2 separate regions of the Homo sapiens genome follow, and region 2 is linked to region 1. Evidence: fine-mapped QTL for protein levels in blood plasma. Region 1 holds a variant in brackets. A gene starts in the other region. All regions are shown on their reverse strands.

Region 1 (2,922 bases):
AACATCACTTGTTAAACAGCACATCCCTGATGCCAAATTATCAGCCAAAAGCGAAGGAAAACTTATTTATACATTACCCTTAGAAAGAACAAATAAATTTCCAGGTAATGTGCATGAACACTGTGAAATAAAATATGTGAATAATAGTCATCATCATCATAATTATTATCATTACAACTAACATTTATCAATGTCTTACAGTATGCTCAGGTACTGAAACATAATCAAAAGAATAGTACAATAACTGAATTATTTTCTGTATAGTGGGAAATAGAATTACATTCTAATAGTTGTATTGTAATGCCTGGGCATTTTAGAGGGCTTCTTTTAGTCCTTCTTCCCTAGTAGTGTGTAACATAATATTCTAGTATTCATAAATGTACACAAACCCAAATGGTTGAAAACCTCTGGCTTATGCACTACATTAAACAGCCCTGTGATGTGGCTATCTGTCTCGGTGAGACTTTTGCAATAACTTTGGGTTTTTCAGGCTAACGCATAAAAGTTTACTAACTATGTTTGTTGTTCAGGGAACTTGTTCCTTAACAATGGGGCACTATAAGGGCCCACATTAGTGGTTGAAACAATTAACCTTGCTGTATATGTGGTTAACAAAGACATATACATTCATTCAAATACACATTTTATGGTGACAACACAAGCATTCCTTAGAATCATCAGGAAAGTGTTACGCAAATTCTGATTAGTACTTTTTAACAGTAATTATAATTTAAAGAAAATTTGTAGACGTTTTAGGTGGAATGAAGAATGATGCATAATACTCATTATTAGCTTAAATCTTACTTCTTTTCTACCTTTCTGTATGAGGTATTCTAGTCAAGACAAAAAGCTTTTAACCTATCCTTTTGCCCAAGCAGGAGCTCCAGATGGAAGCCTCAGGACTTCTGTAATCACCCTAGTATTAGAATTAGGTTTTTATTTAAGCTTGATTTAACCACTGTAATTCAAATCCATGCAGGCAGGGGCACTGTTCACTGCTTCATGAACAATGACAGATGCGTAAGTATATTTTGGTGAACGAACTAAAGAATGAATAGATATAAAATTGCTAGAGCGAATAATCACTGTCACAATTCCAGGAAAATTCCCTGATTCAGTTCCACATTCTCTGCCTGTTAGGTCTTGTGAATTTTTTCTTCCATTGTTAGAAACAGAAAATTTTTTAATGGTTTATATTCTATGTCTTCTCTTTAACAAATATTTTCTAAACTACAGAAGATTCTACACCATCCAATTAATTCTCAAAAAATTAATTCCTTTCCTTTTGTCAGTTAGAACATAAATGGCTCCCATTTATATCTGTTCTCTAGAAAAGACTTTTCAATTAATTAGGCTTAGAGTTGAAAAACCCAGAGTCTCACAATTAATTAAATTTTAAAAGGAAGTCAGAAAAAACTAAGATTAAACTTTAATAGAAATGCAAATGAATATAAATTAATGTTTGACAAAGTAATATTTGGGTTGTAACACATGATGTAAAATAGAAAATAATATATAGAATTTGCAGAATAAGATGATCTATTATGAAATGTTAATTTTCAAATGTTTTTGACATATCACAAGTATAGTTTCATAGATTTGTGCTTATTAGTTTGAAAAATTGTCTTCAGTTCACTTGTGATTCTTGTTTTAATTCACTGCTGTATATGTATTCTTTAGAA[C/A]TTTACAAGGATCTTGATAGCTATCCTGACCTAGGAATTGAGAATTATGGTGTTTCCATGACAACTTTGAATGAAGTATTCCTGAAGCTAGAAGGAAAATCTACAATTAATGAATCGGGTAAATAAAATGCATGAAAATTATTATGTAAAAGCACATATTTCAAGAACACACTGTTCCAAAGATGTGATTACAAAATGTGGGGTTCATGATTAAGGCTCTTCTTAGACAAGCTTGTGTAAAAATGAAACGCATCCCTGTCAACATTGCTTTGTAGTTAAAAATAATCCATTTTTCTACATCCAAGGCTCACTGCACTCATATTAGCTCTAGGCTTCTAAGGGCAATTTCAGATAAAACATTTATTCTAAATCATAAATTAATATAAAACATGAACCCACAGATCTAAAACACTTAAGAACCCCAAACAATACTTTAAAATGAAACTATTAAATTCCTGTAGGCCAGCAATAAAGAAGAGAGTCTTAATTAGACATATTGTACTGTTCCACAGATATCAGATTCTCTGGTGTCAGGTTTTTCTTTTTTTTTTCTTTATGTTAGAAATTGGACACTATCTATCCACCTATTTTCAAGGTCACAAATAACTTATTCTCTTGTGTTCAGACTGTTTTGAAGCCGAACATAATAAACTCTCTATTTCTGATACTGCACTTTTTCATTCTAACATTTTCATTTGTTCTTTTTTAGAGTTTCAGTTCTTTACTATTTCTCATCTGCTCTCAATATTGTCCATATTTTCCAGTAGATCTTGTAACATATTTATCATAGTTATTTTTAAACTTGTGTATTTTAATTCTAACATGTGGACCGTGTGACTGATGACCGTTATCAGTAACTGACTCTGATTTTTTTTCCTCTTCCCTATGGGTTATATTTCCCCGCTTCTTCATATGTCTTGAAATTTGTATTTTATCATGGATGTTACTTTAACAAAACAGGAACACTGAGGTAAACAATGGCCAGAAAATGGCATGACTCTTCCTCTGTCAGACTACTGATGTGGATGGCAGAACTGATCTAATTTGTATTTGGCAAGTGCCTGGGCTTTTGCACAGGTTTTATTAGATTCAGTCCACTCCCAGCTTCGAATGTTTTAAAGGTAGAATCAGGTCTTTCCCTTAGACGTGACTTTGAATTATAGCACTGGAAAAATTCTATATATTTCTCTATAGCCCTGCTATCAAATATCTCAATAATGATTAATCTCACTGATTTTCA
Region 2 (2,922 bases), not on the chromosome of region 1:
AAATTAGCCTGGCATGGTGGTAGGCGCCTGTAATCCCAACTACTCAGGTGGCTGAGGCAGGACAATTGCTTGAACCTGGGAGGTGGAGGTTGCAGTGAGCCAAGATTGTGCCACTGCACTCCAGCCTGGGTGGCAAAGTAAGACTGTGTGAAAAAAAAAAAAAACCTACCTTTAGCTGGTTGTGGTGGTTCACATCTGTAATTCCAGTGACTCCAGAGGACAAGGAAGCAGGAGGATTGCTTGAGGCCTGGAGTGTGAGATCGGCCTGGACAACAGAGTGAGACCCTGTCCCTAAAAATTTTAAATTTAAAATTTAGCTGGGTGTGGCAGCCCATGCCTGTAGTCCCAGTTACTTGAGAGGCTGAGGCAGGAGAAGTAATTGAGCCCAGGAGTTGGAGGCTACAGTGAGCTATAATTACACCAGTGCAATCCGGTCTAGGTGACAGAATGAGGCCAAAACAAACAAACAAACAAACAAACAAAAAAAACACCTGCCCTTTACCCTTTCTCAACCTGACAAATTGACTGACTTGTCTTGAAGGTTTGGCACCACTTCTTGGAAGCTTCCTCTGCTCCCCACCTGGGGTGATGCCCTCTTCTGGAAGGCTCTCACTGCTACACACACAGTGGCTGCCGAAGCTCAGCCTGGCTTTAGTTCCAGCCCTACTAGGTCTTCTCAGGACTCAGGATATCCAGGTGGAAGGAAGGCTGTGCCAGGTACCAACTACCCTACGTGGGATCGCCAAGATAAATCCCTCACATTCAAACTAGTCCCCCAACATCCGTCAACCCTATTCCTAACAGCAAATTGCCACCTTTAGTCCACTCCACAGTGCCCTCTGGAAGGGTCATCAAAAGACAGTTATGACCATACCAAACTATGATTCTTGACACAGAATCAAAAGTTATTTTCAATTTATTTTTTTTCTATTGTAGAACAATAATAATAATATTTAAAATCATATTTTCCTGTGATATAATTAAAACTGTGTTATTTCAATTGAATTTGAAATAGAATTCATGGTCTAAAATAGACTGAATCCCACTGTGAACATATATTTGCATGCCTTCCTCGTCATCATTCAGTTGGTGCAATTGTAAGGCATGCAATAACAAGGGAAGTGAACATTGCAGCACTGTGGCCTGTGGCCACGGTGATGGCGGGACAGCCCCACAGAGGCCACACCAGGTGACTCTCAGCTCGGTGGGTGGGAGGGGGAGTGTCTCTGTGTCCCTCTGGCACACACATCCTCACACAACCTCACATAGTCTTTTTTGCATTTGCTAGGCCATCTCATAACACTTAGGCTCATAAAATTCTGGCTTCCTTTGGATTAACTAAACCCATGGTCCCCCAAGATGGGGATTCCAGGGAGCAGGAGGGAGCCTCGAGGCAGCCCAGACTCCCAGCTGCAAACCTCACTTTCCAGAATACCACTGCCACACCTTGGCATATACCAAATGTTGACAAAGAAGGCTGTTCCCGTACAAGGGCCAATTTTAGAGCAAGCACCCTGTGGTTGGAAAACTGTAAAACCCTCAGCCCCAAAGCTGTGTGTGGCGCTTTGTGCGTGACAGGGCTGGGGCAGATCTCTCTGAGGCACTCAGGAAAACCATTCCCTTTGCTTGTGGTGGGCGGCCCCTGGTGGCTGCTCTGCCCTTGCCAAGTGTTACGTGTCTAAGGTCTGTGGGCATGTTTCTCATTTGCTGCAAAACATCCTCCCCACCCTTGCAGAGAAAGAGTCTTTTGTGCAGCACCCTTTAAAGGGTGACTCGTCCCACTTGTGTTCTCTCTCCTGGTGCAGAGTTGCAAGCAAGTTTATCGGAGTATCGCCATGAAGTTCGTCCCCTGCCTCCTGCTGGTGACCTTGTCCTGCCTGGGGACTTTGGGTCAGGCCCCGAGGCAAAAGCAAGGAAGCACTGGGGAGGAATTCCATTTCCAGACTGGAGGGAGAGATTCCTGCACTATGCGTCCCAGCAGCTTGGGGCAAGGTGCTGGAGAAGTCTGGCTTCGTGTCGACTGCCGCAACACAGACCAGACCTACTGGTGTGAGTACAGGGGGCAGCCCAGCATGTGCCAGGCTTTCGCTGCTGACCCCAAACCTTACTGGAATCAAGCCCTGCAGGAGCTGAGGCGCCTTCACCATGCGTGCCAGGGGGCCCCGGTGCTTAGGCCATCCGTGTGCAGGGAGGCTGGACCCCAGGCCCATATGCAGCAGGTGACTTCCAGCCTCAAGGGCAGCCCAGAGCCCAACCAGCAGCCTGAGGCTGGGACGCCATCTCTGAGGCCCAAGGCCACAGTGAAACTCACAGAAGCAACACAGCTGGGAAAGGACTCGATGGAAGAGCTGGGAAAAGCCAAACCCACCACCCGACCCACAGCCAAACCTACCCAGCCTGGACCCAGGCCCGGAGGGAATGAGGAAGCAAAGAAGAAGGCCTGGGAACATTGTTGGAAACCCTTCCAGGCCCTGTGCGCCTTTCTCATCAGCTTCTTCCGAGGGTGACAGGTGAAAGACCCCTACAGGTAATACCCTTTCCTTTACTCATATACAGAGACTACGTGTATATACTTATATACAGAGACTACGTGAGAGGCACTTAGCACTTTCACAGCTGCTGCGACCACATCAGAGTCTCAGCGTGTGTTTGGGGGTGGGTTTGAGGCTGTCTGTTGCAGAGCAGTGTAGATGAGGTAGTTCATCCGGAGTGGCACTTGACCCTGGAGTTGCATAGGAATCACCTACAAGGAGCTCTAAAAATGCTGATGCCCAGGCCCCTCGCCAGACCGTTCCATCTATGTCTCCAACATAGTAGCGCAGGAATGTGGACTTTTAAAACTCTCCCCCAAGTGATTTGAATGTGCAGCCAAGGTTGAGAATCTCCTTGTGATGGAACCACCTCACTGTTAGACCGAGGCCT

Which allele goes with the higher level. Positions count from the first base shown, and alleles are read on the strand shown. Strength reflects both the effect of a copy and how common the allele is.
In carriers of allele C in region 1, the plasma level of the protein whose gene starts at base 1,790 in region 2 tends to be lower than with A alone (moderate association).

Evidence for each region. PIP is the chance, under the fine-mapping model, that this variant and not a neighbour inherited with it causes the effect. Protein levels are from antibody-based Olink assays in UK Biobank. Linkage for the fine-mapping came from a reference panel and not from the study's own genotypes, which makes the PIPs less certain.
Region 2: FGFBP2 starts here. The variant in region 1 is fine-mapped to the plasma level of the FGFBP2 protein (UK Biobank, PIP above 0.99).

The regions. Positions count from the first base shown.
Region 1 is chr17:68,904,922-68,907,843 of GRCh38, reverse strand. It overlaps ABCA8 (ATP binding cassette subfamily A member 8), which reads left to right. Exons shown (of 40, transcript NM_001288985.2): 18 at 1-104; 19 at 1,681-1,800. Among named protein-coding and RNA genes, the nearest start is that of ABCA8, 49 kb to the left of the region's middle. The variant C/A (reference allele first, on the strand shown) is at 1,683.
Region 2 is chr4:15,962,043-15,964,964 of GRCh38, reverse strand. It overlaps FGFBP2 (fibroblast growth factor binding protein 2), which reads left to right and starts at 1,790. Exons shown (of 2, transcript NM_031950.4): 1 at 1,790-2,527. The coding sequence starts at 1,836. The coding sequence ends at 2,507. RefSeq lists an enhancer at 919-1,760.